Linked DNA regions of Homo sapiens: all the other regions are linked to region 1. Evidence: fine-mapped expression QTL. A gene starts in region 1. Each other region holds a variant in brackets. All regions are shown on one strand. Distances are from middle to middle.

Region 1 (10,608 bases):
GTGCTGGAGTGGCCTCTCACCAACCCAGCCGCTCCAGCCTCACTCCGCTGCAGAGTCAGCTGCCCCTCATGGTCGGAGATGAGGTTTTATGAACAGACACCACCAGCGGTGAGGCAAATGGTGGATCCCCGGGGGCCTCCGTGGAGCTGAGGGGGACGGCGCCAACCGAGTCCAGTGGGACGGCCAGGGGGACGGCGCCAACCAAGTCCAGTGGGACGGCCAGGGGGACGGTGCCAACCGAGTCCAGTGGGACGGCCAGGGGCACAGTGCCAACCGAGTCCAGTGGGACGGCCAGGGAGGACCCAGTCAAAGGCAGTGAGGAGGGAGACAGGGTGCAGAAGGCATCATTTGCTGAGGCCAGCCCATGGGCTTTAGGGCCCAAGTACCTGATTCACATCCCAGCTCCACCTCATCCTTGGGTCCCTGAGCCTCAGTGTCCCCATCTGTCAAATGGGAATAATATCAGCTTGGACCTCAGAGGGTTGTCGTGGGGATCCAGTGAGCTCATTTCTGGCTCTCCGTAGGATCCCAATGCATATTTGTGGAATGACTAAGTGGAAGAATGTGAAGTGGTTAGAACAGGGCCTGGCATGGCACATGGGCAGTGCCCAATAAACATTGGCTCTTACTAGTGTTTAAAAGTAAAACAAGACAAAAAAAATGAAATCCAAAGTTGCTAACCTGTGAAAGTTGACAGCCCCAATTAACCCCAACCTGAGGAAGAAAATGACCCTGCTGGACGGTGTTTCCAAAGGTGCTAAGTTGGGAGGGGAGGTCATTAATCTGCCTAAGGTTTCCCAAGACTAATTCTGCAGAGGCAGCTCCGTCCAGGCAGGCCGGGGGTGGCAGGCAGACAGGGGCACGGCTGGCCCTGAGGAGGGCCTCTGCCTTGTCCCCTCAACCGGCTCCCCAAGCAGGACTTTTGTTGGCTCAGTCAGGCACTTTCCACAGTGGCCAGCCACCCTCGGCCAGCGGGCACAGTCAGAACACTGCCAGCCACCCTCAGCTGTGGCCAAAACCCACACTGACTTCCATGGGGTCCCAACTGGCTGCCAGTGTGGGCCTGGCATCTGAGCAGGACTGGTTACAGATTTGCAGGCCCCCGTGTTCAGAAACTGTTAACTATTAGGAATTTCACGATGTCAACAGTAGAAAAAATTAAACTAAAAAATAAATAAATAAAATAATACAATAAACCCCCGACCCTTCAGAGCATGGGGCCCTGGAGAGTGCAGGGGGGTCACACTCCCACGAAGCTGGCTCTGCACACAAGTCCAGCAGAGCACAGATGCGCGGCGCTGCTGGGAGCAAAGCCCCTTAACCTGCTGAAACAGGACGTTTCCTCTGGAAAATCCCCCCGGCCGCGGATTCAACCCATGGGCAGGGCGGATGGTGGCACACGCTGTCTGGAGTCCCAGAAAGGCCTGTCTCTGCAGTCACCCATTTCACAATCCATTTGCTTCACACACCCATTTCACAACCCCATGGCCACAGCCAGGCTGAGAAATGTGTCCCAAACTCCAAACCTGCTGGGACCATGAGAGTCTCCCAGTTCCTGATGCCCCCACTGGCCTGGCATCCCCTCTCTACTGTCCCCTACATGCCCAGCCCACATCTCCCCAGAGAGGAGGCCCAACCCTTTGGGCTCAAGTCGCCTCCAAACCCTCTCCTTTTATATTCTTCCCAGGTCTCGTCCCTCTCTGAAATTATCACCTGGACTCATCTTTTTACACATGTGATGTCAGCCTCACCTGTGAGCCTCAGTATGGCTGGGGCTGCACCTGTGGGTGGTTGGTAACTGCAGGTGGAATGAGATGCCACCTCCTCAGGGAGGGCTTCCTTGATCTCACCCCAACTCTGGCCTTTGGCCTGTTATCACCATGTCTGAAATGACCTCCTGACCTCATTGAGCTATGAGTTTGCATGTGTGTGTGTGTCTTTAGTCCCTTTGTCCCCCACAATGTCACACGAGGTCAGGGAGTTGGTTTTCTTCCCAGCCCTGTGCCCCATACCCAGCACAGAGCTTCACACTGAATAGGAGCAGAATGTTTGTTCAATGAGTGAACAAAACCTTTTTTTTTTTGCCTCTGACTTGTGGCATTCTTCCCAGGGACTCAGGCCTGCCCAATCGCGGTGCCCCCTCCCCACTCCCACTCCCAGCAGTGAGCCCTCCCTCCTCAGCCCATTAACACCTTGGCTCTGCCCATTTCTCCTGGGTAGAATCAGGGAGTTGTGACCTTCTCTGCCTGTGCCTGACAGTGGGCTCTGCCCTTCATGCCCAAAATGCCAGCATCACAGTCCCTGGCACATCTAGGGTTATCAGATTTCGCAAAGAAAAATACAAGCTATCCAGTTAAATTGAGATATACTTACACTAATCATTATTCATAGTTTATCTGAAATTCAAACTGAACTGGGTGTCCTGTATTTAATTCTCGCAGTCCTGGGCACACACGAAGCCTCCTATGAGTGCTGGCAGTCCAGCCTATGCTCCTTCCAAAGCAATTCTCCTTTCCTACTGCCCCGTCAGGGGCCCTGTCTGTGCTGGAATCATCATTGTCCTCAACTGCAAAATGGAAAATAAAATGATAGTGGTTCCTCCCTCCCGGGGTTGCCAAGATGATTAAATAACATAACAACTAAGATGTATCCGGCCCCTTCTCCTCTACTTGCAAGGCATCGATCCCTTCATTCCTCGCAATCACACCACGTGAAGGTGCCATGAAGCCACCCCATTTTGCAGAAGAGGAAACTGAGGTTGGAGAGGTGAAAGCACTCAGCCGAGGTCACACAGCTATGTCCCACTCATCTTTGGGTGACCCTCAGGTTCGGACCCTGAGGTCTGAACACTGCATTAAGCTCTCCAGACAGAATCAACTTCGGAACTAGCGCCAGAGACCACTAAGTCAATCCCAGGTGACACCATCAGCACTCAATAAATGGTAGCCACTGCCGGTGTCGCAGATGGATCAATGGGAGGTCAAGCGTTGTGGGTAGGTTTGGTTTCTTTAAGCCACTGAATTAACTGGTTATTTTTGCCTGCTGGCAGTGCAGCCTCCATTGTGTAAATGCCATCTCACTTCCAAGACAATCAACGTGTGACTTCTCCCAGCCAGACTAGCCAGGTCTCCCGAGACTTCCCGGAGGGCAGGGGCTGTGTCTGGAGTGGCTGAATTCCCCGGCTCAGGGTTGCAGCTCAGCCAGTTTGTTGATTGAATGAATGAAGAAATGGCTGAAAGCAGGGGTGGTAATGATGACCTCCTTCACCCTAGGAAGTGAATGGGACCCAGGTCATCTCCAGGCCCAGCCAGTATTTGCAGTGGCACCCCAAGGGATGCTGGGGGACCCCTTAGCTTTTCTCTTAAGTTGCAGCGGCCAAACTGCAGCAATATCTTCCCTGATAAAAGACACGCTGGTGGTATTGCCCCTTCCTCAAGGCAGGGGCTGAGGGCGCCCAGTTCACAGCAGGGTGCCATCTGGGGTAGACGCTGGGTATTGCCCCACTCCTGGGCCGGGGCCTGGGTCCTGACCTAGTGCTGGCTGTGGCTCCAAGAGTGAGCTTCTCCTCCCAAACAGAAGACGGTCAGTGCCTCTGAACCTCCCTCTGGGCTGGGCACGCTTGGACTCCTCCAAAGAGCTTGGACCAGCCTGAGCCACATCCCTGGGCTTGACTTCTCCAGAACAAGCCTCCTGGTCTTTCTGGGAGAGCTCTGGCAGCATCACTGTGCCTGTGCAGGGAGAGCGGGAACCCACTTCCTGCACCGGCTTTCTCTGAGTTCTTCAGGATGAATTCGCTCTGGTCTAGGTAAGTTCTACCCCGAGGCCACCTTCACTTCCCAAATTCCAGCTTTTCCTTCTCTATCCAAACTGTTACAAACACAGTAACAATAATTTTTAAAAGCTTTTTTTTTCTCTGAACACACTAAGTCCCTGCTAATTACTGAAACTCCAGGCATTACAGGAATATGTGGACACTTAAAGAATCAGGACTACGTGGGAGAGGGGGAGGCAGCTCCCCAGGGTCCTGGGTTGGCACACAGGCTCCACCACTGTGTGACTTTCAACAAGCGACTTCCTTGACCAGCTGCCCGCTCTGTAAAATGGGGAGAGTAATATTCGGCCACACTGAGTCGGTGTCAGGTTGAGTTAATATTTGGAGAGTTTCTGGCACAGGTAGGTGCTCCTTAAGTGCCTGTTAAATAAGTGAAGCTTTGAGAAAGTGTCTAAAAGGCGACACACTAAATTTTTAAGAGGCTGGAGGTGGGCCAGGGAGGGGAGGTCTCTTATGTAATATTTTAATATCTTTTTAAACCTGAAGAATGTGTTCTTGTAGCACTCCTGTAATTAAAACTTAATGAACTAAAAGTACACCCCTCCTGCTCATACCCCTTTTGAACTCCGCAGCCGCGCCCCCCAGCCGGAGGCCCCTTGGGCAGCAGACAATGGGTGTGGATTCGCCCCAGGTCCCGCCGGCTGGGGCGGCGACAATACACCAGTCCCCGACAGCTATTTACATGACAAGGGCTTCCGGGCGTGTCTACGCGAGTTCCCGTCTTTCCTGGTCGTCCTCCTTGGGTTCGGGTGAAAGCGCTTGGGGGTTCAGTGGGCCATGATCCCCGAGCTGCTGGAGAACTGAAGGCGGACAGTCTCCTGCGAAACCAGGCAATGGGTGATCCATCTTGGGGGCTTCCTCCCCCTTTCTCCAATTTCTCTTCCCTGAGCCCCCAGGGACCTTGTGCTCCTCAGAAGATAGGCTAGCCCCAAGAGCCTGGGTCAAGGACCCCAGGGACGGGGGCGAGGGGAGGGCGCACCAGCAACCCGCCCGGGTGCGGCTGGCACCGAGTTCGGCTCCCCGGCCCCGGGCGTGCGCCGGGCAGGCGTTCCAAGCTGACCGCCGTTGGGGAGAGGGCACAGCGCCCCTCCTCCGTTGCGCGGGTGCCGGGTCTACGTGGGCCGCCTAGCTCTGGCCCTTTAAGAGCCCGCCCCGTTTCCCGTCACCCCGCCCCCCGGCTCGGGGAGGGGGTGCGGGGGAACCTCGGCGGGGATTGGCGCAGCGCGCGCCCCCTCCCCGGCCCCCGCGCGGTGGGAACCGGCAGCCCCGTCTAGCGCTGACGTCAGACCGTCTGCCTGCCTCCGACCGCGGTCTCGGAGCGAAACCCGATCTCCTTGGACTTGAATGAGGAGGAGGAGGCGGCGGCGGCGGCGGCGGCGGAGGCGCTCGGCTGGGGAAAGCTAGCGGCAGAGGCTCAGCCCCGGCGGCAGCGCGCGCCCCGCTGCCAGCCCATTTTCCGGACGCCACCCGCGGGCACTGCCGACGCCCCCGGGGCTGCCGAGGGGAGGCCGGGGGGGCGCAGCGGAGCGCGGTCCCGCGCACTGAGCCCCGCGGCGCCCCGGGAACTTGGCGGCGACCCGAGCCCGGCGAGCCGGGGCGCGCCTCCCCCGCCGCGCGCCTCCTGCATGCGGGGCCCCAGCTCCGGGCGCCGGCCGGAGCCCCCCCCGGCCGCCCCCGAGCCCCCCGCGCCCCGCGCCGCGCCGCCGCGCCGTCCATGCACCGCTTGATGGGGGTCAACAGCACCGCCGCCGCCGCCGCCGGGCAGCCCAATGTCTCCTGCACGTGCAACTGCAAACGCTCTTTGTTCCAGAGCATGGAGATCAGTGAGTGACCCCACGCCCCCCTCCCCGGAGACTCCATCGGGCTCGGACCCTATGTCGGGGCACAGCTGCGAGCGGGGGTCCGGGCCCTGCGCGCCCCCTCGGACCGAACGCCCTGCGCCCGGGCAGCGCCCGCCGCGCCCCGGGCGCGCCCTCCCGGCTCGCGGCAGCTGGCGGCCGGCCCGGCTTTGTCCCGCGGCGCTGCGAGCCTGGCACGGCCCCCGCTGTCCGCGCCCCGCCCGCCCGGACTCGGACCCGGGGCTCAGCGGCGGCGCACGGCGCGGGAGGGTTGGGGCGGGCGGATCCGTGAAGTTTCCATTTTATTTCCCTGAGGGCAGTCGCGATGGAGCATTTAGGCCGGCTCTTTATCAACTTTGGGCGGGGGTGGAGGGGCGTGTGAGACACTGTCTGGTCTGCGAGGTGTCTGGGGCTCCGGGCGTGTGTCTGGAGTGTTCGCGGCGCTGTGTCTCGGGCTCTGAGTGGATGTCCGTGCGTCTGTGGAGTGTGCGTGGCTGCGTGGCTCTGTCTGGGTCTTCGGCGTCTCTCGGGGTGTCTGGGGGTCTGAGTCGCGGTCTTGCCCAAGAGTGCGTGTCACCGAGTCTTCCTGCCTCTCTCTGTGTGTCTTTCCCGTGTCCGGGCCGGGGTGCCTTTCTTGAGCGTGTCCATCTTTCTGGGGGTCTGGTCTGGTTGGGCCGGATCTGGGGACCGTGTGTGTCCAGGTGTCTGAATCCAGGGCTCAGCTCTGGCCCGTCTGGCCCAGCGTGGATCTTGAATGTGTGTGTGTCATTGTGCCAGTGTCTGTGTCCCCGACGCACCTATAAATAGCCTCTGTCTGGACAGCTTGGTTCAGTCTGGCTGAGACCATGGTTACAAAGGAGTCAAAGTTTGGGGCTGTTTGTGTTTGGGACTGCCTGGCCCTAAATAAGGGATCAGTGGACCAACGGTGGGGAGTGGGGTTTTGAACCTTGTCGCTAACGCAGCCGCCTGGGCACCCAAAAGTTCAGATAAGTAAGTCTCTACCTCCTGCACACACAGCCCACCTAGGTGGACATTTGGTTGAGTGGAGAATTGAACCACTACCTCCCGGGTTCTGGCTTCTAGCTTCTAGCCTACACCTTGTCCCCCAGCCCACCTTTTCGGGGACCTTTTGCTTCCCTGAGCTTTAGTTTCCCCATCCCCACCCTGAAGAAGCACGCCAGGTGAAGGGGCACACAGTCCTTCCCTGCTGGGGGCCAGGCTGCCCCTAGCTGGGGCCCGGAGCTGAGAAGCAGCCGCTGTGGAATGAAGGCAGTGTCTGGGCGGCTCATAAGCAAGTGTCCGCAGGCGGCTGCCAGTTTGTGGCCCCTGAGCCTATACAGTGAGCTTCAAGTGGTAAAAATAACCAGGCTGGCCGGGCTTTGGTGGTGGGTCCTTCCATCCATCCACCTCTCCACACTCCCTCCCAGCCTGGAATGGAAAGCTCTCCCCCTACCCCACCTTAGCTGGCCTGTGCCAGACTAGCGAGGTGCCAGGAGGACCTGCCCAGAGCCAGCGTTTGCGGAACCGACTTGCCTTCCCAGAGGCCCTTTGTGAACTCAGGAGGCTAATGAAATGCACGAGAATGTTATTAAAATACGTTCGCACACGTTTGGAGAGTCTTGCCTTAGATGGATTGCTGCTTCAGTGCCCTCCTTGCCTCACTTTTTGCCTTTCGCTCTGTAAAGCTGCCTTGAGGACCTCCTGCTCGAGGGGCACACATCCTTGTGTCACCCTTATTCCAAGGGCTGGGCACAGTGCATCATTTTGCTCTTGTCTCTCTTTATGGTTCAGGACTTAAAAAAAAAAAAAAAAAGCATTGTTCTTATTTCTGTCCTTTCTTAGGCTCATCAGTCCATGATGTTTTTGACCTGACATCAAGGCCTCTTGTTAAATGCCTTGCCGCCGCCCTCTGCACTTTGCCCCGCCGCCGCCAGCAGCCTTTGAGTGATTGGGACCCTTGGGGTTAATACCTGGAACCCTAGCCTGTTCCAGCTGGCCCCTGGGTGCCCCAGTTAGTCCTGTGTTCTGTGTATACACAGCCCCCTACTTATTGGAAGAAAGCTGCAAGGCACGGAGGGAACCAACCAGTCTTTAAAATGCAGGTATACTGTAACAGTTTGTTTTCATCAGATTTCCCCGAGAGACTAGGGTGAGGAAGTGGTAAGGCCTGGTGTCTCCTGGAGTTTCTTTACACCAAAAGATAGGAAGGAAGGAGGGAAGGAAAAAAGAAAGGAAAAAAGCTAGTATTTGGTTTTTCTTTTAACTAGTAGTGGCTGCTGTTTTTCATCTAGTACATGCTGGGAGTTGTTTGCAACGAGAACTTGATGGATGGTTTGGAGTTGGGCTTTGAGGCAGTGTCCAAGTGGCTCCTATCCTGTAAGATACCTTCTTTTGGCAGAAGGAAATTGACCTTGCTAGGTCCTTAAGCCATGATGGGCCTCACTGTCTTCATCTGAAGAATGAGGCCGTGATGGATGAAATCTAGAATTCTATAGTCTTTCAAGATAGGGCCTCTCCCCTGCTGAGCCTGGCTGGAGGTCTTCAGGCTGGACCGGGCTTCCCACCCACTGCTGGTTCCCCTGTGTGGTCTTCAGCTACCCCAAATTTCAGACCTGAGAGGAGCCTACGCAAGCTCGGGGTTCACATCCCTGACTTACAGATGAGGAAAGTCCACCGTGGAAAGTTTTGCCCGAGGTCCAAAACCCACACCAGCCCCAGGCCAGGGTGGTTTCTCTTGGACTGCACGCCCACACCTCTTGAATTTGGTACTTGGGCCCCAGAGCAGGTCCTCCTTGAAATTGGGGGCTGGGGGAAATTGTCAGAGCCCCTTTGTACGCCGGGAGCCACGTCTGCTCTCAGGATGCTGAATGGAGTGGGCTTGACTGTAACAGGACACTCCTGGGGCCCCATTTTTTCTGAGAGTCGAGGGATGAGGCTGCTGTCTGGTGGGAATTCAGTGTTCCCAAAACATACCCGTGGGAAAACCCTTTCTTTTAAAAAGCCAAGGGTCCTGGGATTAAAAGCAGGCAGCACGAGTGACAGCCTTGCAGATGTCAGCCTGGAGCTTGAAGCGGCTACTTTTGAGGAAAGGACTCCTGGCACCTGGTTTTCCTGGCAACCTCATCTACCTCATTTCAGTTCTGCTGCGTCTCAGAGATTACCCCCGGTCTTTCTCCTCTGGTTATTGCCTCAAACTTCTGGGGCCCAGATGGATGCTAAGTTCGCTCTCGGGAAAGACTGAACCTGGGGCCACCCGGTGTCTGCTCACGCGGGAGGCGTTTCCTGAGAGTTCTGGGAGGTGCCCCTGCCCTGGGCCCATCTCTGGTGGTATCTACGGTGGCAGCTGTCTTTTTAACATCACCCACTGGCCAGAGTCACCGAGCCTCTGATTCTTCTTCTCCAACCTTTTCCAAACAAATATGAGAAAATATCAGAAACTCACAGGACACCCAGGTTTCCCTGGGCTTGCCTGGCACATGCTGTTTGACACTTGCTTGAATCAAGTGAGGGTGTAGAGACAGTGCCTTGGCACTGTGACATTCTGAGCCCGGTAATTCTTTGTTGGGGGGCAGGAAAGGCCGTCCTGTGCTCTGTAAGGTGTTACCAGCACCCCTCTCCCACACCCACTAGATACCAGCACCCCTCTCCCAGGTTTGACAGCCAGAAATGTCTCCAGACATGGTCAAATGCCCCCTACTGAGACCACTGTTTAATCAGTTAGTGGTTTCTCCTAAGGGGCTTGAGGGCCAGAGGGCAGCATCTGCGTTGCCAGGAGACCCTTAATTCCCGTCAGACGTTCGTCCCTGTGAAGGCCTGTGGCCACTCCGCAGCCACTCATCCACTCAGCTTTTACTGAGTGCCTGTTGTGTGCCATGAAGGAAAGATAGGGGCTTCCTCTTGAGATGAAGTTTTCCCGTTTTCGTCTTGGATTTGCTTTTCTAAGGAGAGACCCTGGCGTTAGTGAAAGCTGATGTTTTGGATTGGGGTTAAAATACAGATGTCCAACACCAGCTGTTCTCCCCTGTGGACCCGCTAAACCCTGGGACTTTTCACCCACAGGTTTTCTGACTGTCTGGGTTTTAGGTTGTGGTGCAATAGGGGAGTTATTAAGGGAGTTGAGTTCTATGACCCGAATCTTAGGTCAGACAGTTGGCCTCAGCTTCCCAGGAGGTCTGGGTTAAGCCAGCTACACTGCCCAGTGTGACCCAGGGTCGAGGTGAGTTTAGCATTTGTCAAAGCACAAAATAACTAATTGTTCCTGTACAAACACACACGCGCCTGTGAGTGGGTGCTTGCATGCGCACACGTGCAGACACACACACGCGCACACACAGTCATACACAGGCACACACAGCTTCTACCCCATCTGTCTTTCCTGCCCTCTTCTCTTTGGGTTGGGAATGGTTAAAACTTCTGGGCATGTAAGAAGAAAAGGAGGAAGAGTGCACATTCTCCCCTGTAAGAGGTGCGAAGGTATGCACCCTCTCCATAAAAGAAGGAAGGTGGACCCCTGTGTGCCGCTGCCCAGGAGAAGGGAGGCCGTCGGGAGGTCTGTGGAGGCTGGAAGCGTCTACAGCAGAGTTGCCTCCCTCAGGAGCCCCAAGGAAGCCTCCATGCTGCAAGATGCACCCGCCACCAAATTGCCCCAGAGCCACGGGGTCAGGTGTGCCCACATGCCTGCCCCCACCATCTCCACTCCCATCGTGGCCCAGGGCCAGGGGGTTTAAACGTTTATAGTCCGGTCAATAGTTTAAAAGCCAGAAAATGTTTGGAGGAAGGTGCTGGTGGCAGGGTCCAAACCTGAGGATCGGTGTGGCCTTCTCTCTTCAGGTGTTAGCATCCAGAGACCAAGTTTGCAGGCACCTCGGTGTCTGGGATCCTGCCCAAAGAGAAGGAACTCTTACACGGTGAATTTCGGAGGCTGTGCTGCTGCCAGCC
Region 2 (10,608 bases), 57 kb after region 1:
ACAGTCCCTAGCCGGAAGGCCTGTCCCTGGCAGGTCTGGACACCTCTGCTTGCATCAGGCCCCAGCCTCAGTGCGTCACCAGGTTGCCAGGGCAAGGAGCATCAGCCCTGGGACCTCTGATGGGAATGCCTGGCCCACAGACCCGGGGCCCACTGTGCGTCCCAGCACGCTGTCCGGAGGGCGTGCTGCAGACCTGCTGCTCTCAAGCCCCGACGTGTTTATTTGCTGTTGCTACCACTCCAGCAACAAGCACTGGTTACGTCTGCCCAGGGATGCCATCAGGGACTTCAGGGGTTCACCCCACTTTCCAGAGGAGAAACTGGGGATGAGAGAGGTGGAACATTTGCCGGAGGCCACACTGCTTGTCACTGCCGGTGTGAAGAGCCCACAGCCTATTCCGTCCTCCCTCAAGTGCTGGGGAGAGTGACGGTGCCTGGACATTCCAGAAGGCACCAGCCCTGGAGGGGCACTAACTCCAGGCTGGACTCACCTTGCCCCTCGGAGCCTCAGTGTGTGCATCTCCACAGTGGGTTGAAGCTAGGCCTGTGCGGCCCGTGGTCATGGGGAGGATGCAGTTAGTGGAGAGTGTACCGTACCCAGAGGCCGACTGCAGGGGCTTCACTGTTGTGGAGCAGGAGACGGCACCTGGGATCCTGCTGCCAGGAAGGGGTAGGATTCCGTCACACCTTCGGCCAATAGAAAGTCTCCTCCCACTGTCTACCCAGCCGCCTGCACAGCCGCCCGGGATGCCTGGCTGGGTAAACGTGGAGCCTCACTAGGCCTAAAGCAGAATGTGGCAGCTCCCCTGGGGACCCCCTGCCAGACAGGAGTCCCTGGGCCCCGCGGCCTTCCATAGAGATCCACATACAGCTCTTATCTGTCCCGGGCCCAGTCTACATCCCCCCAGCCCATCCATGCTCTGCCCCTGGCATGGCTATCCGACCATGGCCCCTTTTCAGGGTGACCCTGGGGGTCCCCTCTTGCCTGTATGGAGACAAGAGCTCGTGCCTCACCCACCTGCCTCACCATCTCAGGTAAGACCCTGAGCTCTGAGGTCTTTTCTCGGCCTTGTCACCTCCTTGTTGTGTGACACTGGGCAAGGATCTGCCCTCTGAGGGTGAGGCTCCAGTGCAGGCAAGCCCCTCGACCAGGGATGGCACTTCCACCCTGGCGCTGCTCCGAGGGTATTCGGGACATGATGCAGAACGTCACTGCAGTGACCGCCCAGCCACGGAGTGGCGCAGACTTCAGGTTTACCCAGAAAGGCAATCCCAGTCTTTGTGCCCAAGGCCTGCTCAGACTAGGAACTCAGGCCTTGGATGGGGTGACCCTTTGTCCTCTTTATCCCCCAATCAGTCCTCAGTGTGGGTCTCCTGCTCCCGAGAGAACCCAGCCCACCAAGGGCCCATTTCCCAGGGGCAGGGACAAGACTGTGGCCAGGCCAATGTGCGACAATCTGCCAGCAGCGGGAGCCAAAGACCTAGCGTCCACTCCCATGGCCTCAGGAGATACCGAATTCCCCCAGGCCCCTTGTGCTGGGCTGTGGGGGAATTCAGTATCTCCTGAGGACATGGGAGGTACCGAATTTTTTAGGAACATCTCTTTATTCTTTAGAAACATCTCTGAGTCCTCGAAGTTTGATAGAAGGCCATCCCGTCCCCTTGGATGTTCCTGGGGACTCCAGGGGAAGAATGGGCAGCTACGTTCTGGCCTCGTGGTGTTAAGACTCTGGAGGGGTCTGGGAGGAGCTGCCTGAGCGTCAGCTCACTGCGGCTGCCTGGTTTTGTCAATGAGGTCTTTTCTGAGTGTGAATGAAGTGTTTTCGAGTGCGTTTTGCCCATAGCTGCGCTTGGCTGTAGCAGCAGGGTTCAGTGGTATGACAGAGACCCGCCGGCCCACAAACCAGAAAATATTTTACTCTCTGGCTCTTTATGGAAACAGTTTTCAGACCCTTGGTCTAGAAGCATCTAAATGGGGAAGGCGCAGGTGGACTGGGTGCGCCCACTTCAAAGAAGAGGAGTCCACCCCGAGCCCTGGGAGTCTGGGAGTGGTTGGAGGCTGCTGGGAGCAGGGGGCTCGTCAGCAGTGGCTGTAGGATTGGAACCTGTCCTTGTCCTCCACCTGGGGTGACTGGCAGACATAGCCAGAGGCTGGGGAAGGTTCCAGACAATTCTGAAGCTGGGCCCACCTCCCCCGACTTCTCAAGCCACTTTGGAACCTAATTCCACAAAGATGACTTGCACGGGTCACCCAGCAACTTCCGCACTTAAGTAGCAACCTGAGCACTCCCTGACTGCATAGCACGCCGGCGCCTGGCACTGGGGAAACGGTAGCAGCTCCTGCAGGGCGAGTGAGACCCCTGAATAGGCCACCGGGGGCAGAGGGACAAAGGCTGTGGTGCAGGAGGGGACTGGAGGAGATGGGAGGAGGTGCCTGACCCGCCTGGGGGGCTAACGGAGAGCTCTGGGGTTAGCACACCTGGGCAGAGGCTTGAGGGGCCAGTCAAAGTTCTTCAGGAAAGGGAGGAAAGAGGGGCCATTGGTCCAGACCCAGGATGGGCTCAGATCCAAAGGCAAGACGTGAGAGTCTGTGTTCACTGGGCACCTTGCAGAACACACTGTATGGTGCATTGCAGGCGCTGTCATCAGCCCGCTATACAGATAGGAAAACCCGTTAAAGGAAACAGCTATACTACGGCCGTGGACATCTAGGGGGTATGGGCCTCGGTAAGGGGTTGGAACTTTCTCTCCTGGAGGCAGCGGGGGGCCCAGACGGTTTAAGCAGAGGAGTGGCAGGGTGTGGGGTGGGGGGCATGAGGGAGATGTTCCCACTTCTGTGAGGAGGAAGGGCCCTGGGGAAGGGCAAGAGTGGAGGAGACCCTGGGAGACCCCTCAAGGACCTCAAAGACCAGCGGCACTCGCAGCCTCTGGGAGATGGTGAGACACGCAGGCTCGCCAGCCCTCCTGCTACAGAATCTGCATTTTTGCAGGCTGCAGATGGACTGTCTGCACATGGAGGCCCTGGTTCCATAGGACTTTGCTGTCCACTAGGCACAGATGCTGGGGAGAGAGGTGGATAGAACTGTCTAATAGAAGGAGAAGTGAGAGGGGATCAAGGGTGGGTGGAACAAGGGTGGTGGGGAGAGGAGCTGTCAGGAATGATCCTGTGGATCTGGCTTTGCAACTTGAAGAATATCAGAGCCATTCGCTAAATCAGGAGACGAGGCAGTTAAGACCTCCTTAAGGGGTAGGAGCGGTCCTGACGGGACAGTTTTGAGGGGCCACAGAGCCTCCTAGTGGCCATATGGGAAATTACCACCCTCTGGCCGTTCCTACCCAGGCTGCAGGTGAGCGGTATCCTACCTGGGAACCCTCAAAAAACCTGCCCCAAGGGAACGTTTGAGGTGATGGACATACTCATTATCTTGATTGTGGTGAGAGGTTCTTGGTATAAATATATGCCCGAACCAAATTGTATGCTTTGAATATGTCCATTTATTTGCATATCAGTTATATTTCAATGAAGCTATAAAAGTAACAGACATCCCTTTCCCCGGGCCCAGGGCTCACCGTCATGGCATTTGGGGAAACTCAGAGGAACTGGTCCTGGCATGGGGTCTCATTTTCCTCAGAGCAGATGGCATAAGCTTCATGAAGTGGCAGCTGTGCCCCTGCACCCAGACCAGAGCTTGGCGCCACAGTGGAACCACACACCTCCTTTGCCAGAGGCTGAATCACTGTTTTATGGCAGAGCAGCCGCCTTGGGCACTTTCCTCAACTCTCCTGTTTTTCACCTGTGAACTGGGACATCAGTAATGATGGGCTCACTAGATCAAGGGAGAGAAAGACTGTAAAGAAATAAATGCATAGAAGCAATGATTAAGTTAGGACAGGTGCTGGAAAGGGAATCAACAGATGACAAGGTTCACGGGAGAGGCCCTTCAGATGCTGGTCTCCAAGGGTCTGCAGGGGACGCTGGAACTGAAAGTGGACAGCAGCGGGCCGTGCAGCCTGGCCTGCCGTGTAAAGGACCTGGGGCTCGGGCTGAGCTTGTTGAGGCCCCAGGGGGCTGGTCAGCATGGCTGGTGGGAGTGTGGAGGTGACACCCAGCACATTCACATGCTACCTGAGTGCCACGTGGGCTCCGGGTGGTTTTTACATTCAAATTCAGCAAGTGCTTGAGCAACTATGAGGCAAGTACTGTAATCTCAAGAACTGTAATTCAGGTACAGAAACTGCAGCGTTGAAATTAAGTAACTTGACGCAGGTCACACAGCCAGCAGGGGGCCCAGGCCCAGGGGAGTGGGGCCAGGGGTGAGGGGCTGAGGCCATGTTCAGCCTGGTGAGAAGCCACTGAGGCCCACGGGAAGCTACAGGCAGCTTTGAGAAGGGGGCCCCACAAGTGGGTGTATGTTTTGGAAAGTGTCAGGCTGGATTTTCAGGGGACAGCAGAGGGCACCTCAGGGATCAGTGAGGAGGTGATTGCGCTCACGTCCTGGAAAAGCGCCCAGGGCCAGGGGCTGGGGAAGCTGGTTCCGATGCAGAGAGGTGGGCGGGTTCAAGAGCTGATTCCAGGGTAAAGGCCTAAGAGTCGAATCTGGGTTGAGCCTTTGCTGTCCCTCCTGCCCACCCCACTGACCCTGCTTGTACGTTTCTTCCTGTGCAGGAAGGATGCCTGTGGCCCTCGGAGAGCACAGTGTCAGGCAACGGAATCCCAGAGGTGAGACCTCCCTCGGCCTCCCCTCCAACACCCCCATCCCACCCTGGGCTGCTCCCGCTGCGGCTGGAACAGTGTGGGCTGCTAAAGGCTCACCCCTCCGCCCTCCTCTGCAGTGCCCTTGCTGCTGGGATCCTCCTTGCCGGAGATCATCTGCTCCCTGCCCCTGAGGGAGCAGCCCAGCTCTCTGCTCTCTGCACACGGGAGCACGGACGCTGCCACTGTTTGGAGGAGGGCGGTGCAGCTCTGCAGTGCTGCCCCCCAGGCCAGGGCCCCCGCGGGATCAGGCTCTGGGCTCCCGCCCCCGCCAGCCCTGCTGCCCTCTCCCTTTCCCCAGAGAGCCAAGTCCCATGCAGCAGAACTCCAGTCTCAGGATCGCTTCTGGACAACCCACCTGAGACAGCCGCCCTCCCTCACTCCCGCTCTGCTTCCTCCAGCCGCAGGTCTACGCCCCGCCTCGGCCCACCGACCGCCTGGCCGTGCCGCCCTTCGCCCAGCGGGAGCGCTTCCACCGCTTCCAGCCCACCTATCCGTACCTGCAGCACGAGATCGACCTGCC[A/G]CCCACCATCTCGCTGTCAGACGGGGAGGAGCCCCCACCCTACCAGGGCCCCTGCACCCTCCAGCTTCGGGACCCCGAGCAGCAGCTGGAACTGAACCGGGAGTCGGTGCGCGCACCCCCAAACAGAACCATCTTCGACAGTGACCTGATGGATAGTGCCAGGCTGGGCGGCCCCTGCCCCCCCAGCAGTAACTCGGGCATCAGCGCCACGTGCTACGGCAGCGGCGGGCGCATGGAGGGGCCGCCGCCCACCTACAGCGAGGTCATCGGCCACTACCCGGGGTCCTCCTTCCAGCACCAGCAGAGCAGTGGGCCGCCCTCCTTGCTGGAGGGGACCCGGCTCCACCACACACACATCGCGCCCCTAGAGAGCGCAGCCATCTGGAGCAAAGAGAAGGATAAACAGAAAGGACACCCTCTCTAGGGTCCCCAGGGGGGCCGGGCTGGGGCTGCGTAGGTGAAAAGGCAGAACACTCCGCGCTTCTTAGAAGAGGAGTGAGAGGAAGGCGGGGGGCGCAGCAACGCATCGTGTGGCCCTCCCCTCCCACCTCCCTGTGTATAAATATTTACATGTGATGTCTGGTCTGAATGCACAAGCTAAGAGAGCTTGCAAAAAAAAAAAGAAAAAAGAAAAAAAAAAACCACGTTTCTTTGTTGAGCTGTGTCTTGAAGGCAAAAGAAAAAAAATTTCTACAGTAGTCTTTCTTGTTTCTAGTTGAGCTGCGTGCGTGAATGCTTATTTTCTTTTGTTTATGATAATTTCACTTAACTTTAAAGACATATTTGCACAAAACCTTTGTTTAAAGATCTGCAATATTATATATATAAATATATATAAGATAAGAGAAACTGTATGTGCGAGGGCAGGAGTATTTTTGTATTAGAAGAGGCCTATTAAAAAAAAAAGTTGTTTTCTGAACTAGAAGAGGAAAAAAATGGCAATTTTTGAGTGCCAAGTCAGAAAGTGTGTATTACCTTGTAAAGAAAAAAATTACAAAGCAGGGGTTTAGAGTTATTTATATAAATGTTGAGATTTTGCACTATTTTTTAATATAAATATGTCAGTGCTTGCTTGATGGAAACTTCTCTTGTGTCTGTTGAGACTTTAAGGGAGAAATGTCGGAATTTCAGAGTCGCCTGACGGCAGAGGGTGAGCCCCCGTGGAGTCTGCAGAGAGGCCTTGGCCAGGAGCGGCGGGCTTTCCCGAGGGGCCACTGTCCCTGCAGAGTGGATGCTTCTGCCTAGTGACAGGTTATCACCACGTTATATATTCCCTACCGAAGGAGACACCTTTTCCCCCCTGACCCAGAACAGCCTTTAAATCACAAGCAAAATAGGAAAGTTAACCACGGAGGCACCGAGTTCCAGGTAGTGGTTTTGCCTTTCCCAAAAATGAAAATAAACTGTTACCGAAGGAATTAGTTTTTCCTCTTCTTTTTTCCAACTGTGAAGGTCCCCGTGGGGTGGAGCATGGTGCCCCTCACAAGCCGCAGCGGCTGGTGCCCGGGCTACCAGGGACATGCCAGAGGGCTCGATGACTTGTCTCTGCAGGGCGCTTTGGTGGTTGTTCAGCTGGCTAAAGGTTCACCGGTGAAGGCAGGTGCGGTAACTGCCGCACTGGACCCTAGGAAGCCCCAGGTATTCGCAATCTGACCTCCTCCTGTCTGTTTCCCTTCACGGATCAATTCTCACTTAAGAGGCCAATAAACAACCCAACATGAAAAGGTGACAAGCCTGGGTTTCTCCCAGGATAGGTGAAAGGGTTAAAATGAGTAAAGCAGTTGAGCAAACACCAACCCGAGCTTCGGGCGCAGAATTCTTCACCTTCTCTTCCCCTTTCCATCTCCTTTCCCCGCGGAAACAACGCTTCCCTTCTGGTGTGTCTGTTGATCTGTGTTTTCATTTACATCTCTCTTAGACTCCGCTCTTGTTCTCCAGGTTTTCACCAGATAGATTTGGGGTTGGCGGGACCTGCTGGTGACGTGCAGGTGAAGGACAGGAAGGGGCATGTGAGCGTAAATAGAGGTGACCAGAGGAGAGCATGAGGGGTGGGGCTTTGGGACCCACCGGGGCCAGTGGCTGGAGCTTGACGTCTTTCCTCCCCATGGGGGTGGGAGGGCCCCCAGCTGGAAGAGCAGACTCCCAGCTGCTACCCCCTCCCTTCCCATGGGAGTGGCTTTCCATTTTGGGCAGAATGCTGACTAGTAGACTAACATAAAAGATATAAAAGGCAATAACTATTGTTTGTGAGCAACTTTTTTATAACTTCCAAAACAAAAACCTGAGCACAGTTTTGAAGTTCTAGCCACTCGAGCTCATGCATGTGAAACGTGTGCTTTACGAAGGTGGCAGCTGACAGACGTGGGCTCTGCATGCCGCCAGCCTAGTAGAAAGTTCTCGTTCATTGGCAACAGCAGAACCTGCCTCTCCGTGAAGTCGTCAGCCTAAAATTTGTTTCTCTCTTGAAGAGGATTCTTTGAAAAGGTCCTGCAGAGAAATCAGTACAGGTTATCCCGAAAGGTACAAGGACGCACTTGTAAAGATGATTAAAACGTATCTTTCCTTTATGTGACGCGTCTCTAGTGCCTTACTGAAGAAGCAGTGACACTCCCGTCGCTCGGTGAGGACGTTCCCGGACAGTGCCTCACTCACCTGGGACTGGTATCCCCTCCCAGGGTCCACCAAGGGCTCCTGCTTTTCAGACACCCCATCATCCTCGCGCGTCCTCACCCTGTCTCTACCAGGGAGGTGCCTAGCTTGGTGAGGTTACTCCTGCTCCTCCAACCTTTTTTTGCCAAGGTTTGTACACGACTCCCATCTAGGCTGAAAACCTAGAAGTGGACCTTGTGTGTGTGCATGGTGTCAGCCCAAAGCCAGGCTGAGACAGTCCTCATATCCTCTTGAGCCAAACTGTTTGGGTCTCGTTGCTTCATGGTATGGTCTGGATTTGTGGGAATGGCTTTGCGTGAGAAAGGGGAGGAGAGTGGTTGCTGCCCTCAGCCGGCTTGAGGACAGAGCCTGTCCCTCTCATGACAACTCAGTGTTGAAGCCCAGTGTCCTCAGCTTCATGTCCAGTGGATGGCAGAAGTTCATGGGGTAGTGGCCTCTCAAAGGCTGGGCGCATCCCAAGACAGCCAGCAGGTTGTCTCTGGAAACGACCAGAGTTAAGCTCTCGGCTTCTCTGCTGAGGGTGCACCCTTTCCTCTAGATGGTAGTTGTCACGTTATCTTTGAAAACTCTTGGACTGCTCCTGAGGAGGCCCTCTTTTCCAGTAGGAAGTTAGATGGGGGTTCTCAGAAGTGGCTGATTGGAAGGGGACAAGCTTCGTTTCAGGGGTCTGCCGTTCCATCCTGGTTCAGAGAAGGCCGAGCGTGGCTTTCTCTAGCCTTGTCACTGTCTCCCTGCCTGTCAATCACCACCTTTCCTCCAGAGGAGGAAAATTATCTCCCCTGCAAAGCCCGGTTCTACACAGATTTCACAAATTGTGCTAAGAACCGTCCGTGTTCTCAGAAAGCCCAGTGTTTTTGCAAAGAATGAAAAGGGACCCCATATGTAGCAAAAATCAGGGCTGGGGGAGAGCCGGGTTCATTCCCTGTCCTCATTGGTCGTCCCTATGAATTGTACGTTTCAGAGAAATTTTTTTTCCTATGTGCAACACGAAGCTTCCAGAACCATAAAATATCCCGTCGATAAGGAAAGAAAATGTCGTTGTTGTTGTTTTTCTGGAAACTGCTTGAAATCTTGCTGTACTATAGAGCTCAGAAGGACACAGCCCGTCCTCCCCTGCCTGCCTGATTCCATGGCTGTTGTGCTGATTCCAATGCTTTCACGTTGGTTCCTGGCGTGGGAACTGCTCTCCTTTGCAGCCCCATTTCCCAAGCTCTGTTCAAGTTAAACTTATGTAAGCTTTCCGTGGCATGCGGGGCGCGCACCCACGTCCCCGCTGCGTAAGACTCTGTATTTGGATGCCAATCCACAGGCCTGAAGAAACTGCTTGTTGTGTATCAGTAATCATTAGTGGCAATGATGACATTCTGAAAAGCTGCAATACTTATACAATAAATTTTACAATTCTTTGGAATGAGGCTTTTTCACTTCTTTGGCCAAATGTAGCTCTTCTCACTTCCCACCCCTTTCTACAATAACCCCGGGTGCATTCAAGGGAGGCGAAGCGATCCCTCGGAGCTGCTGGGCAACCTTGAACAGTTCGTTCAAACTTTCTGTTTTATTAGTTCAGGCAGCATTCAGGGAGCCCAGTGAAAACACTAGCTCAGGCAGGTTCTGGTAAAGGGGGTGGTCGTTGTTAAACAATTTTGCAAAACACTGCATACTTTTCCTCCGTCGGGAAATCATTATTCACCATAGCATGACGAAAGCTCTGATAAGGTCTGCAAGGAAAAAAGAAACTGTCTTAGGTAGGGTTCTTCCAGAAGTAACCCCAAGACGTGGCCTTGTGTGTAAGGGATTAGGACGTTTTAAGGATGTGCTCCCAGGGGGCTTCCGCTAAGGGAGTCAGGGAAGAGGATCAAGGAGGGGGAGAACCTGAGCAAGGGAGACACTTGTGGACAGAGTTCCAGCCTCAGCTTGATCCCAAGAGGACCTGTGGGGGCTCTGGACCCTGGAAAGGTAGAGTCCCAGACCCCTCTGGCTCCTGGTGCACAAGATGGAGGAGTGAGTCTCAGAAGCTGCAGAACTGTCCTCCCAGAAGCCAGCCACTAGCAATGCTCATGGAGACAGGGGGAGGGCTGTACAGACTCCCTAAAGGGTTCCAGTGGGACCTGGGGGCACCTGCAGCACCCACTACAGACCCTGTCTCATTTATTTTACTACACTTGGCCCTTGAACAACGAGGGGTTCAAGGCACGCTGAACCCCCTTGCTGTCAAAAATCCATGCGTTACTTGTAAATAAAATTTTTTTAGAGATGGGGATCTCGCCTTGTCACCTAGGCTGGAGTACAGTGGTATGATCATAGCTCACTGCAGCCTTGACCTCCCTCGAGGCTCACAAGGCCCTGCAGAGCCTTCCCATTCTCTCTGGCATCTCCCAGATGTTCCAGCAACATGCACCGGTTTCTCCCCCCACACACCCCATTTTCTCCCTGTGGCTATGCTCACTGCTGCCCCTTCTGCCTGGGATCCCCTTCTCTCAAAGCCCACATTGCCCTGACATCATTCAGACCCAGACCCAGTTCTGATAGCACCTTCTCCAGAAAGCCTCCCAGGATGCCCCCAGCTTCTCTGTGCCGGCTCTACTGAGGCAGTCACTGCACTGCTTGTGGCGTTCATGGCTCCTCCCCAAGGTCACTGCACTGCCTGAGGTCAGGGCCAGACT
Region 3 (10,608 bases), 980 kb after region 1:
TTTTGGAAAATTCTTTGGAGTGTATGTAAATTAGAAGTGAAATGCACATGTACCGGAATTCTACATTGTTAAAATGTTGGTGTAGATATGAAGATCAGGGAACAGAGGTAACAACCCAAACAGAAACATCAAGATAGGGATAATTTTATATGCACGTATTTCTAAATTACCCTAGGATGATAGGCCCTGTGCAGTTTTGCACCTAGCATTTCTCTACTGAGAGTCTTACAGACATTTTCTCCAGCCATCAGTATCCACAAAGGTCCGGTCCTGGCTCTGGGGCTTCAGGCCCAGGAGGGGTCAGGAAATTTCCACTGGCTGCTGGCTGGGTGGAACAGAACGGTTCTCAGCATGGGCAACTCCAGGAGCAGCAAGCCAATGAGAGTGGCCGGATTGAAGCCACTGACGTACAGGCATCCGGCAGGCCTTGTAAATAACTCCAGTGGGTAACAGCGGGGTCTGGGGTTCTGTAGCAACAAAGTCTGCCCCACCCACAGCAATCCAGCCAATGTGTGGTTCAGGAAGGCTGACCAGGCACGGCCACATCTCCCCATATCTAGAGAGAAGATCAAAATTCAGATAAAAGCTCTTGATTTCAAAGGTTGGTAATTAATTTGAAATTTTTTAGCTGTATGAGGCAAACAGAACACATCTGGGTCACATTTGGCCTGCAGTCCTTCCAGCCTGTAATGTCTAGGTTAAAATTTGGAAGTGATTTTGTTATACCAAACTTTGGGGGCCCTCTATTTCATGGGACCAAGTGGCCAAAGTTTCCAGGTCATTTTCAATGGTCTCTTTGAGAGTCATATTTCAAGATTCACTAGAATTGGCAAGCAGAGACAAACAATTTATTCAAAGATCTTTTCACCTAGTTTCCTGTCAATATAGCTGGCTAGGGAGACTATTCCAACTTCATTTGAAAAAAGCTCACAGATTTGGAAGTTAGCTAAGAACCCAAAAGTCAGTCTAGCTTCATGCAAAGCAAAAACCGGCAGCCTAAGAAACCATAGCCTGGAGTGGGGGGTGGAGAAAAGAAAAGACTAGAAGGAAAAATACCAACATATTAACAGAACGTGAGGATATGGGATTATAGGATGGGCCACCTGGCAACCTATTAAAACAGAATAATATGTTTACTTTCCTCTCTAGGAAAAAAACTGAGAAAACACCAGACGTGGCGACATCTATAACTTTCTACTTATATGCTCATCATTAAGTTAGTGTCATGGACCTTAACAGTTTTGTCTGCCCAGACCACTCTCCTTCCTCTGAAAACGGAACTCCTAGTTTTCCTGTTAATACCCCGCCCCTCTGGACCCTATGGTTCCTATGGCAGCCCGGTTTCCAGATGAACCAATCCCGTAGTCCAGGAGCAGTCACCTGACCCAAGCTGAGCCAATGAGAGGTCTACCTTGTGCAAGTTGATGCCCGCCTTTTCTGCCAGAAGAATATCACCGACCCATCCCTTGGTTCCAGACCATTCGTGAGGCCCAGCAGCAGTGTCATGCCTCTCGTGGCTTGGTTAGTTGGCCCCTCCTTGATTTGGGGGAAGCCAATGGATCATCATCTTGGATTTCAGTCACTTGCCATCACTGTCTTTCACCAGAAGCCTGCTGATGAAGTCAATGTGTAAGAAGAGGATCCTGCAGAGATAAGACGTGGGCTCACTCATCCTGCTCACTCTTCAGCCTGCACTATGTGCTAGCCCACTTGGGAGCTTGGTGGATACCTACAGAAGCAAAGTAGCTCATGAGCAGGGCAACAAACTTCTATTAGTAAAATCCACCATTCTGGGGCTTTCCAAACACCCAAAAATACACAATATTTTCCTTCCATAAACACACCCTTCAAAACGGCATTATCCTTCATCTAGTCCTCTACTTCCTTATACCTCAAAGTGTCTTTTATTTCCCTTTTTAGACATGAAATATTTGGCAGCTTTAGCAAAGCAGGTTGGCTGCCATATATGAAAAATGTAACCTGAAACCTCCGCCTCCCGGGTTCACGCCATTCTCCTGCCTCAGCCTCCCAAGTACCTGGGATTACAGGCACCCGCCACCACGCCCAGCTAATTTTTTGTATCTTTAGTAGAGACGGGGTTTCACCATGTTGGCCAGGATGGTCTCGAACTCCTGACCTCGTGATTCACCCTCCTGGGCATCCCAAAGTGCTGGGATTACAGGCGTGAGCCACCGCGCCCGGCCCGAATGTTAAATTTTTATTTAGCTCCAAAATAGCTTGAGGGGAAAAAAAGAAAAACAATGATGAAGTTGTTGGGGGCACAGAGGTGTTTTATAAATAGGAAAAATTAAAGATCATAGAATCAGCATTACCAGTGGTTCAAGTAAAAATCCTAGATAAATGATAAGAATTACTGATAAAAAATGAAATATACTTGACTCTGGAAATTTGTAAATAATAATCTAAATTAAGTCTTAAATCCAACACAGAGCAGTTGGGTGCAGGATTGTTTGTTTGTTAAAAAAAAAAAGCTCCTCTTATCTGGCTGGACACGGTGGCTCATATCTGTAACCCCAGCACTTTGGGAGGCCAAGACAGGCGGATCACGAGGTCAGGAGTTCGAGACCAGCCTAGCCAACATGGTGAACCCCCGTCTCTACTAAAAATACAAAAATTAGCCAGGCGTGGTGGTAGATGGCTGTAGTCCCAGCTACTTGGGAGGTTGAGGCAGGAGAATCACTTGAGCCTGGGAGGCAGAACTTGCAGTGAGCTGAGATGGTGCTGCTGCACTCCAGCCTGGGCATCAGAGCAAGACTCCATCTCGGAGAAAAAAAAAAAAGTTTCTCTTATCTTGTAGGGAGGCTTACAAAGCAGTTTCTTTAGGCAATCATGTATTTCTATAGCACACTTTGTCCCCCAGAGAACTGCCAGCCCCAACCATCCGGATAACTCTGTTTTTCCACAAATTCAAAGTGCTTTGAAAACTGGAGACTTGGGAGAGATCTACGCTTGTGGTGAATTATTCAAATCTGGGAATTGTCACAATGGAAAAGAAACCAAAGCTCATTCCAGTCTTTCTTTTTGAGGGCAACAGTGCTTTAGACAGAATGCTCTCGTCCCTTGAGAAAACCACATATTTTGAAAAGGGGAATTTTTTTTTAAACAAAAAAACTCTGCTGTAAATGAATTTCTTTCTTTTTTTTTGTGACAAAGTCTCTCTGTCACCCATGCTGGAGTGCAGTGGTGTGATCTTGGCTCACTGCAACCTCCACCTCCCAGGTTCAAGCGATTCTCCTGCCTCAGCGGGGACTATAGTTTGCGCCACCATGCCTGGCTAATTGTTGTTTTGTTTTTGTTTTTGTTTTTGTTTTTGTTTTTGTTTTTGTTTTTGAGATGGAGTCTCGCTCTGCCCCCCAGGCAGGAGTGCAGTGGCACGATCTCGAATCACTGCAAGCTCCGCCTCCCGGGTTCATGCCATTCTCCTGCCTCAGACTCTGAGTAGCTGGGACTACAGGCGCCCGCCACCACGCCCGGCTAATTTTTTATATTTTTAGTAGAGACAGGGTTTCACCGTGTTAGCCAGGATGGTCTCCATCTCCTGACCTCATGATCCGCCCGCCTCAGCCTCCCAAAGTGCTGGGATTACAGGCGTGAGCCACCGCGCCCGGCCAATTTTTGTATTTTTAATAGAGACAGAGTTTCACCATCTTGGTCGGGATGGTCTTGAAAAATGCATTTCAATGGTATGACAACGGTATGACATTCTATTTCCCTTCTTGCATCAAATGCAGAGTCATGCATCAAGTGCAGAGACACTATGTGGACGAATAAACACAATAGGTTAAGAAAGGGGTTGATTTAAGAAGTAAGAAAGGGAAAAAGGTAACTTTAAAGTGGAGAAACCTGGCAAACACAACCTCAACCACAGCCAGGGTATCAAGGTCAACATCAACAGTGATAACTCGTGTTGACAGTGCGTACTTTTTTGATAGGATGTGATGAGAAGGGGCTTCACCTTTGTGATCTTCCTCCCCTAAACTCAGTCTGTTTGGTGAAAATAACATCCGACAAATTCTAATTGAGGTATGTTTTACAAAACATCTTTTTTTTTTTAAATGGAGTCTCACTCTGTGTGGCTCAGGCTGGAGTGCAGTGACGCAATCTCAGCTCACTGCAGCCTTCACCTCCCAGGTTCAAGAGATTCTCCTGCCTCAGCCTCCCAAGTACCTGGGACTACAGGTGCTCACCACCACACCCGGCTAATTTTTTTTTTTTTTTTTTTTTAGTAGAGAGGGTGTTTCACCGTGTTGGCCAGGCTGGTTTCGAACTCCTGACCTGAGATGATCCACCCACCTTGGCCTCCCACCATCAAGGTCATCAAAAACAAAGAAAGTCTAAGAAACTGCCGCAGCCAAGAAGAGCATAAGGAGACAGGATGACTCAATGTCATGTCGTATCCTGGAGTAGGGAAACAACACGGGGAAAACTAAGGAAATGTCTATCAAGTATGGGCTTTAGTTAATA[A/G]AAATCCATCAGTATTAGTTTATTAATTATGACAATATGCAATAGTAACGTAAGAAGTTCATAATAGAAGAAGCCGGATTGTGGGGCCTATAGAAACTCTGTACTATATTTGCAATTTTTCTGTAAATGTAAAACTATTCTAAAATTTAAATAAGATTTTAAAAGTAGTAAATCTTGTGATTTGTCTAGTATGTTTTTTATCTGCTTGAAGGAAAAATATTTTAATTTATTTTTCATCAGTAATTCTTATCATCTATCTAGGATTTTTATTTATTTATTTATTTATTTTGGAGATGGAGTCTCACTCTGTCGCCCAGGCTGGAGTGCAGTGGTGCGATCTCAGCTCACTGCAACCTGTGCCTCCCAGGTTCAAGCGATTCTCCTGCTTCAGCCTCCGGAGTAGCTGGGATTACAGGCACCTGCCACCATGCTCGGCTAATTTTTGTATTTTTAGTAGAGACAGGGTTTCACCGTGCTGGCCTAGGATTTTTATTTAAGCCATTGGTACTGCTAATTCTATGATCTTTAATTTTTCTATTTATAAAATTACACCTGCTGTTTTGGTTATTAATCTGTTGTCTGTTTAGTCTTCAAATACCTGGTAAACAAGTACTCTAGTCTGGGCATAGTGGCTCACACCTATAATCCCAGCACCTTGGGAGGCCGAGTTGGGCGGATCACTTGAGGTCAGGAGTTTGAGACCAGCCTGGCCAACATGGCGAAAACCCATCTCTACTAAAAAATACAAAAAAATTAGCTTGGTGTGGTGCCACACACACTTTTGGTCCCAGCTGTTCTGGAGGCTGAGGCACGAGAACAGCTTCAACTCAGGAGGCAGAGGTTGCAGTGAGTTAAGATCCCAGCAAGAGGTACCCGGAAGCCCAAGCGCCACCTCTACCTCTGGGTACCTGTTTAAGAGGCGTCCTCTCACCAGCATAGAAAAGCAAAACAATCAGACAGAGAGGAAGACTGGATCTAATGCCGGAGGATGATCAGAGGCGAATGATCATGAAGAGAAAGTGAGATGACAGTGCTGATTCTTAATGGATTCCTGATTTCCTCTGACAATCTCCACAAAGTCAGGCCTCACTACCTGCCCTTGATTTCCCAAGTGACCATTAAATCCCTGGAAAAAGAAAGTATTTAGTGCTTAAGCTAGTTTGAGTAGGTGTCTGCTGTTTGTAACCAATATATCTCTGACTAAGCCCATGTTCACTGTTCAAAGTTTGAGAAGGACCAGAAAACATAAAGAGAAATTTTAAAACAAAACAAGCACAGGCAGCTGCATGACATCTATTGTCTGGGTAGTGACCAGCAGCAGCACCACCATTTTTGCCTGTCCAATGTGCATTTTGCCTGGACTTTCTACAGTGATAGGGTGTAAGCTGAAAGTTGGTGGTCAGGGTTTCACAGGGCACAATCTGCCTTAGAAGAAAGCCAGGAGAGGAAAGCAATATTGAGAGATAGAGAATGGCTGGGCATGGTGGTTCATGCCTGGATTCCCAGCACTTTGGGAAGCTGAGGCAGGCAAATCGCTTGAGCTCAGAAGTTCGAGGCTAGCATGGGTAACACGACAAAATCTCATCTCTAAAATATATACAAAAATTAACAGGGCATGGTGGAGCATGCCTGTATTCCCAGCTGCTTGGGGGACTGAGGCAGGGATTGCTTGAACCCAGGAGGTCAAGGCTGCAGTGAGCTGTGATTGTGCCACTGCACTCCTGCCTGGGGGCCAAAGTAAGACCCTGTCTCCAGAAAAAAGAGAGAGAGAAATAGAGAATGATTCCGGATGGCATCCTTCAGCCCCTGGATCCAGCCGTGCCTGAAGCCACTGGCCTTTTCAACCACATAAGTCAATAAATTTCTTTGTTTATCTAAGAAAGTTTGTGGCCGGGTGCGGTGGCTGACACCTGTAATCCCAGCAGTTTGGGAGGCTGAGGCAAGTGTATCACGAGGTCAGGAGATCAAGACCATCCTGGCTAACACGGTGAAACCCCATCTCTACTAAAAATACAAAAAATTAGCCAGGTATGGTAGCACACGCCTGTGGTCCCGGCCACTTGGGAGGCTGAGGCAGGAGAATCACTTGAACCTGGGAGGCAGAGGTTGCCATGAGCTGAGATTACACCACTGCACTCCAGCCTGGGTGACAGAGCGAGACTCCATCTCAAAAAAAAAAAAAAAGAAAAAAGAAAAGAAAAAGAAAGTTTGCATAGGGTTTTCACTCTCCTGTAATTAAACAAACCTCATGAAATGTCTTAGGTCAGAGACCTGTATGAAGAATTCAGACAGTTCTCCTCTTCAACCCTAAGCCAGGGTGGGTAAGAATACTGAGTGCTGGCTGGACAGCTCTGGCACCTGCCCCTTTTTACAATTTATCTGAGGAAAAAACACATTCAGAGTTTTGCCTGCACTCCAAGGATTAGGAAAGGGGGCCAAGAGGAGACATGAGGAGGAAGATGGAAGCTTCCCTCTGAACAAGAACAGAGACAGTGCCAGAAAGTTCAGATCAAAGAGGAGGGCTGCGTTGACAGGGGCTTAGTCAGCCGCTGGTGTCAAGACCCAAAGAGAAAGTTGGGCAGGTTGACATGGAGCCCACAGGTGGGAGTGGGAGGTGGAGTCTGGATTTTGACCCAGCCGGCTGGAAACTCATTTACTTTTGGCCATGGTGACTTCCTGTTTTCAAAGGGAAGGAGGCATTGGTAAAGAAAAGCCGCCCCCGGCTTACTGGACAGCAAGTATTTCTCACAGAGTTCTATTTTTTGCTCCATTCAATGCCAGTGGTTCCAATTTATTTTATACAAAACAGGGTTCTGTGATGATGGGAAGGTCTTCAACAAGGCCAGTGGATTTGATTGAGAGCAGAAGATGAATGAATCATTCCAAGATGTTAGACAAAAACCCCAACACACCCAGGTTCCCCCGTTGAGACTGGGCTGCTGTTTGGCGTTGTGGGGAGAGTGAGCCACACCGGTGGCAGGGCCTGCACTTCCCATCCAAGACCATTTCCTTGCAATGAGGTCTCTTGATTCTCAAGGCCCATTTGGGTGCTGGAAATGCCTCTTCACTCTACCAAATCTCCACTTCCGGTTTTGACACCTAACTCATCTCAAATCCAGGAGTGACGGCCTCTAACAAGAAATTATATTATTGTCTGGGCACAGTGGCTCATGCCTATAATCCCAGCACTTCGGGAGGCTGAGGCGGGTGGATTTCTTGAGGCCAGCATGGCAAAACCCCATCTCTACTAAAAATACAAAAATTAGCTGGGCATAGTGGCACACGCCTGTAATCCCAGCTACTGGGGAGACTCAGACATGAGATCGCACCACTGCACTCCAGCTTGGGCAACAGAATGAGACTCTGTCTAAAAAGAAAAGAAAATCTATTATTGTTTTTTAAACTTCCAACCTACTCTCCATAGCCAATTTGGGGCCAAATCCATGGACATTACTGAGCCTCTCAGCTGTCCTCCATCTCAGTCTAACTGTGAGAGGAGCTCGGAAGCAGCTGTCTGAATACTTTCTCAAGTCCTCACTTCTGCCCAGCAGTGACCCGGAATTTGCTCAAGCGTTTCTGGAAAACCAATGAGGCCGTAGGAAGATGGCCCTCCCTCTGCATGAGAGTCCTGTGACAGTCATCCTAGCTGTGAATGAGGATGTAACCAAGATCGCATGGCAGTCTTGACACAGGTAAAGAAACAGGCAGGTCAGGAGAGAAGGACGCTCAGAATTTTGGTAGACTGTATACAAATCTGATTCCAGATTATTCCTCTAGTCCAAAGGTTCTCAACAGGAAACAGTTCTGCCTCCTGGGGACATTTTTGGTTGTCACAACTAGGGGAGAGTGTTACTGGCATCTAGTGAGTGGAAGACAGGGATGCCCCACCACATGGAACATAATTCCACAACATGAAATGATCTCGCCCTTAAGGTCAACAGTGCCCAGGCAGAGAAGCCTGCTCTAGCCACATGATCGGTCTTAAAAAGAAGAGGGCTCCAGGAATAAAATCTGAAGAGCTGCTTCTCTAAACCATGCATTGTATCAAGAGCCAAACAGCACTGCTTCCACCAAGGCAGCATAACACAAGGAATGGAATTCTCACTTGCTGGCTCAAGGCCTTGCACACTCAAAGGCTTTGGCAAGAATATTCAGGGGGCCCTCTGGTGTATTCACTGGGGATGCTTTGGGCTGCATTTAAGAGAATACATGCCTAACAGTGGCCTACATGATAAAAGCTGGGGAAGTGGATTTGGTTGAGCAGATCTTGTCTCTGTCCGCTGTCCATCCAAATGATAGATGTTGTCCTATAAGTATGCCCAAGTGGGGTCTCTGTGTGGTTCCCTGAACTCCTAACAGGCCAGCAGGGTAGACTTGCAGCCAAGCCTCTGACAAGTTGGCCATGGTCTCAAGTAGCCCTGTGCAAGAGAATGTGCCTAGCTCAGTCCAAAACCATCCAATGGCAACAGCAGTAAAGGCTTTACAGCTTGTAAGTGAACATCAGCAAGTACGAAGGGCAACTCATCATCCGCAAAAGCTCTCTACAAAATTGTCCACCAATCTTCCTTCCCATCTCCATCCTTGCAACCTCATCCACCCCTTTATTCCTGAAGGAGGCACCACAGGAAGGAAGGTTAGTGAAATCAACAGAACGTCTACTCGCCCTACAAACGTGGCATCCTGCTGGTGGGCAGGCAGTAGTCTGCAAGGCTGTAGTAACGGGGCTGGGACTGGGACCTCGTCCACTGCGGCCCCTCTGTCTCCCACACTTCCTCTTTGTGTCTCAGGCTGAGTTTCCCTTCCTCTTTTCCCTCCTGCAGATGGTTAGCTGCTTCGATTGTTTCGCTCATAGGACCAGTCCAAACCACAGAGCTTGGCACCACCTTCCAACCTCCCATTTGCCAACGTCTGTTTATCAGATCCAAGGCATGCTCTTATGGGCTGATAGTCTGACAGGAGCTCTGTTTTCAAGCCGGCGAGGGAAGTCCAACTGTTATATAAGGCCATATCGAGCCCCATTCATTCCTCCAGCAATAAAGTGCTTTTGGAAACAGGATGGTAATTGGCAAGATGACAATCATTGTGCAGCAGGCTGGCTCAAATGAAATGACAGCCCTTTCTGTCACGTCGTGGTAAATCTCAGCCTCTCTGCTCCTTGGAACCAGTCCGAGGGTCCCAGTGGGTAGGACGGGAGGGAAGGCGGCAGAAGAGAATAGAGTGACCTCTTCAGAACACTGATTGCGTCAGTTAATTCCTGCTAAACTCGGTCACTGGCTTTACAGTGCTCCGAGGATGAAATCTTTGAGTGGCTGTAGGTGACAGTTTTTGTTTGTTTGTTTTTTGAGATGGAGTCTGTCTCTGTCGCCCAGGCTGGAGTGCAGTGGCACAATCTTGACTCACTGCAACCTCCGCCTTCTGGGTTCAAGCGATTCTCGTGCCTCAGCCTCCCGAGTAGCTGGGATTATGGGCACCTGCCACCATGCCTGGCTAATTTTTGTATTTTTAGTAGAGACAGGGTTTCACCGTATTGGCCAGGATGGTCTCGAACTCCCAACCTCGGGTGATTCACCTGCCTAGGCCTCCCAAAGTGCTGGGATTACAGGCGTGAGCCACTGCACCTGGCCCATAGGCGGCATTTTTTTAATCTAGCCCTGGGACCTCAGCATTTCCTCTCCCACCTCCCTGCCCCTCCCTCACAGGGCACTGTCATGCTGGCCTGAGGCTCCTCTGTCCCCCTCTGGGCTTTGGCACACATCGGCCTTCTGCCTGGGACACTGTTCTCTCTGCTTTGCATCTGGTCAAAGTCTGCTCAAGCTTTGGCGCTCCCCCCAGCAAAGACATCCCTGGCAAACTGGGTCAAAGCCCCTTTTTAAAAGCAACCAGAGCACCCCTTCTCTCCCTGGCCCCACACTTATCACACCTGTACCTGCTCATCCATTCATCGGATCATTTGGTTAATGCCTATCATCTGTCTCCCAGTTAGACCATGAGCTGCAGGAGACAGACTGTATTAGGGTTCTCTTAGAGGGACAGAACTAATAGGATATATATAGGAGTTTATTAAGTATTAACTTACGCAATCACAAGGTCCCACAATAGGCCATCTGCAGGCTGCGGAGCAAG

Direction of the effects. Positions count from the first base shown, and alleles are read on the strand shown. Sizes are in standard deviations (SD) of each study's normalised expression. Not every link is listed here.
As copies of A replace G in region 2, the expression in pancreatic islets of the gene that starts at base 5,114 in region 1 goes up (small effect, 0.36 SD a copy in PISA).

Evidence for each region.
Region 2: its variant is fine-mapped to the expression of PMEPA1 in pancreatic islets (PISA, PIP 0.95). The same link has a PIP of 0.9 or more in fetal neocortex.
Region 3: its variant is fine-mapped to the expression of PMEPA1 in fetal neocortex (Walker 2019, PIP 0.95).

The regions. Positions count from the first base shown.
Region 1 is chr20:57,704,521-57,715,128 of GRCh38, reverse strand. PMEPA1 (prostate transmembrane protein, androgen induced 1) reads left to right here and starts at 5,114. Exons shown (of 4, transcript NM_020182.5): 1 at 5,114-5,655. The coding sequence starts at 5,547. NKILA (NF-kappaB interacting lncRNA) reads right to left here and starts at 4,946. Exons shown (of 1, transcript NR_131157.1): 1 at 2,349-4,946. RefSeq lists enhancers at 1-69, 2,449-3,060, 6,121-6,732, 9,823-10,417 and silencers at 4,713-4,832, 4,853-5,282.
Region 2 is chr20:57,647,144-57,657,751 of GRCh38, reverse strand. PMEPA1 (prostate transmembrane protein, androgen induced 1) reads left to right here. Exons shown (of 4, transcript NM_020182.5): 3 at 4,666-4,719; 4 at 5,154-9,356. The coding sequence ends at 5,699. Among named protein-coding and RNA genes, the nearest start is that of ZBP1, 32 kb to the right of the region's middle. RefSeq lists enhancers at 1-16, 1,852-2,449, 2,450-3,049 and a silencer at 3,243-3,322. The variant A/G (reference allele first, on the strand shown) is at 5,276.
Region 3 is chr20:56,720,981-56,731,588 of GRCh38, reverse strand. No RefSeq gene overlaps it. Among named protein-coding and RNA genes, the nearest start is that of TFAP2C, 97 kb to the right of the region's middle. RefSeq lists an enhancer at 9,405-9,474. The variant A/G (reference allele first, on the strand shown) is at 4,486.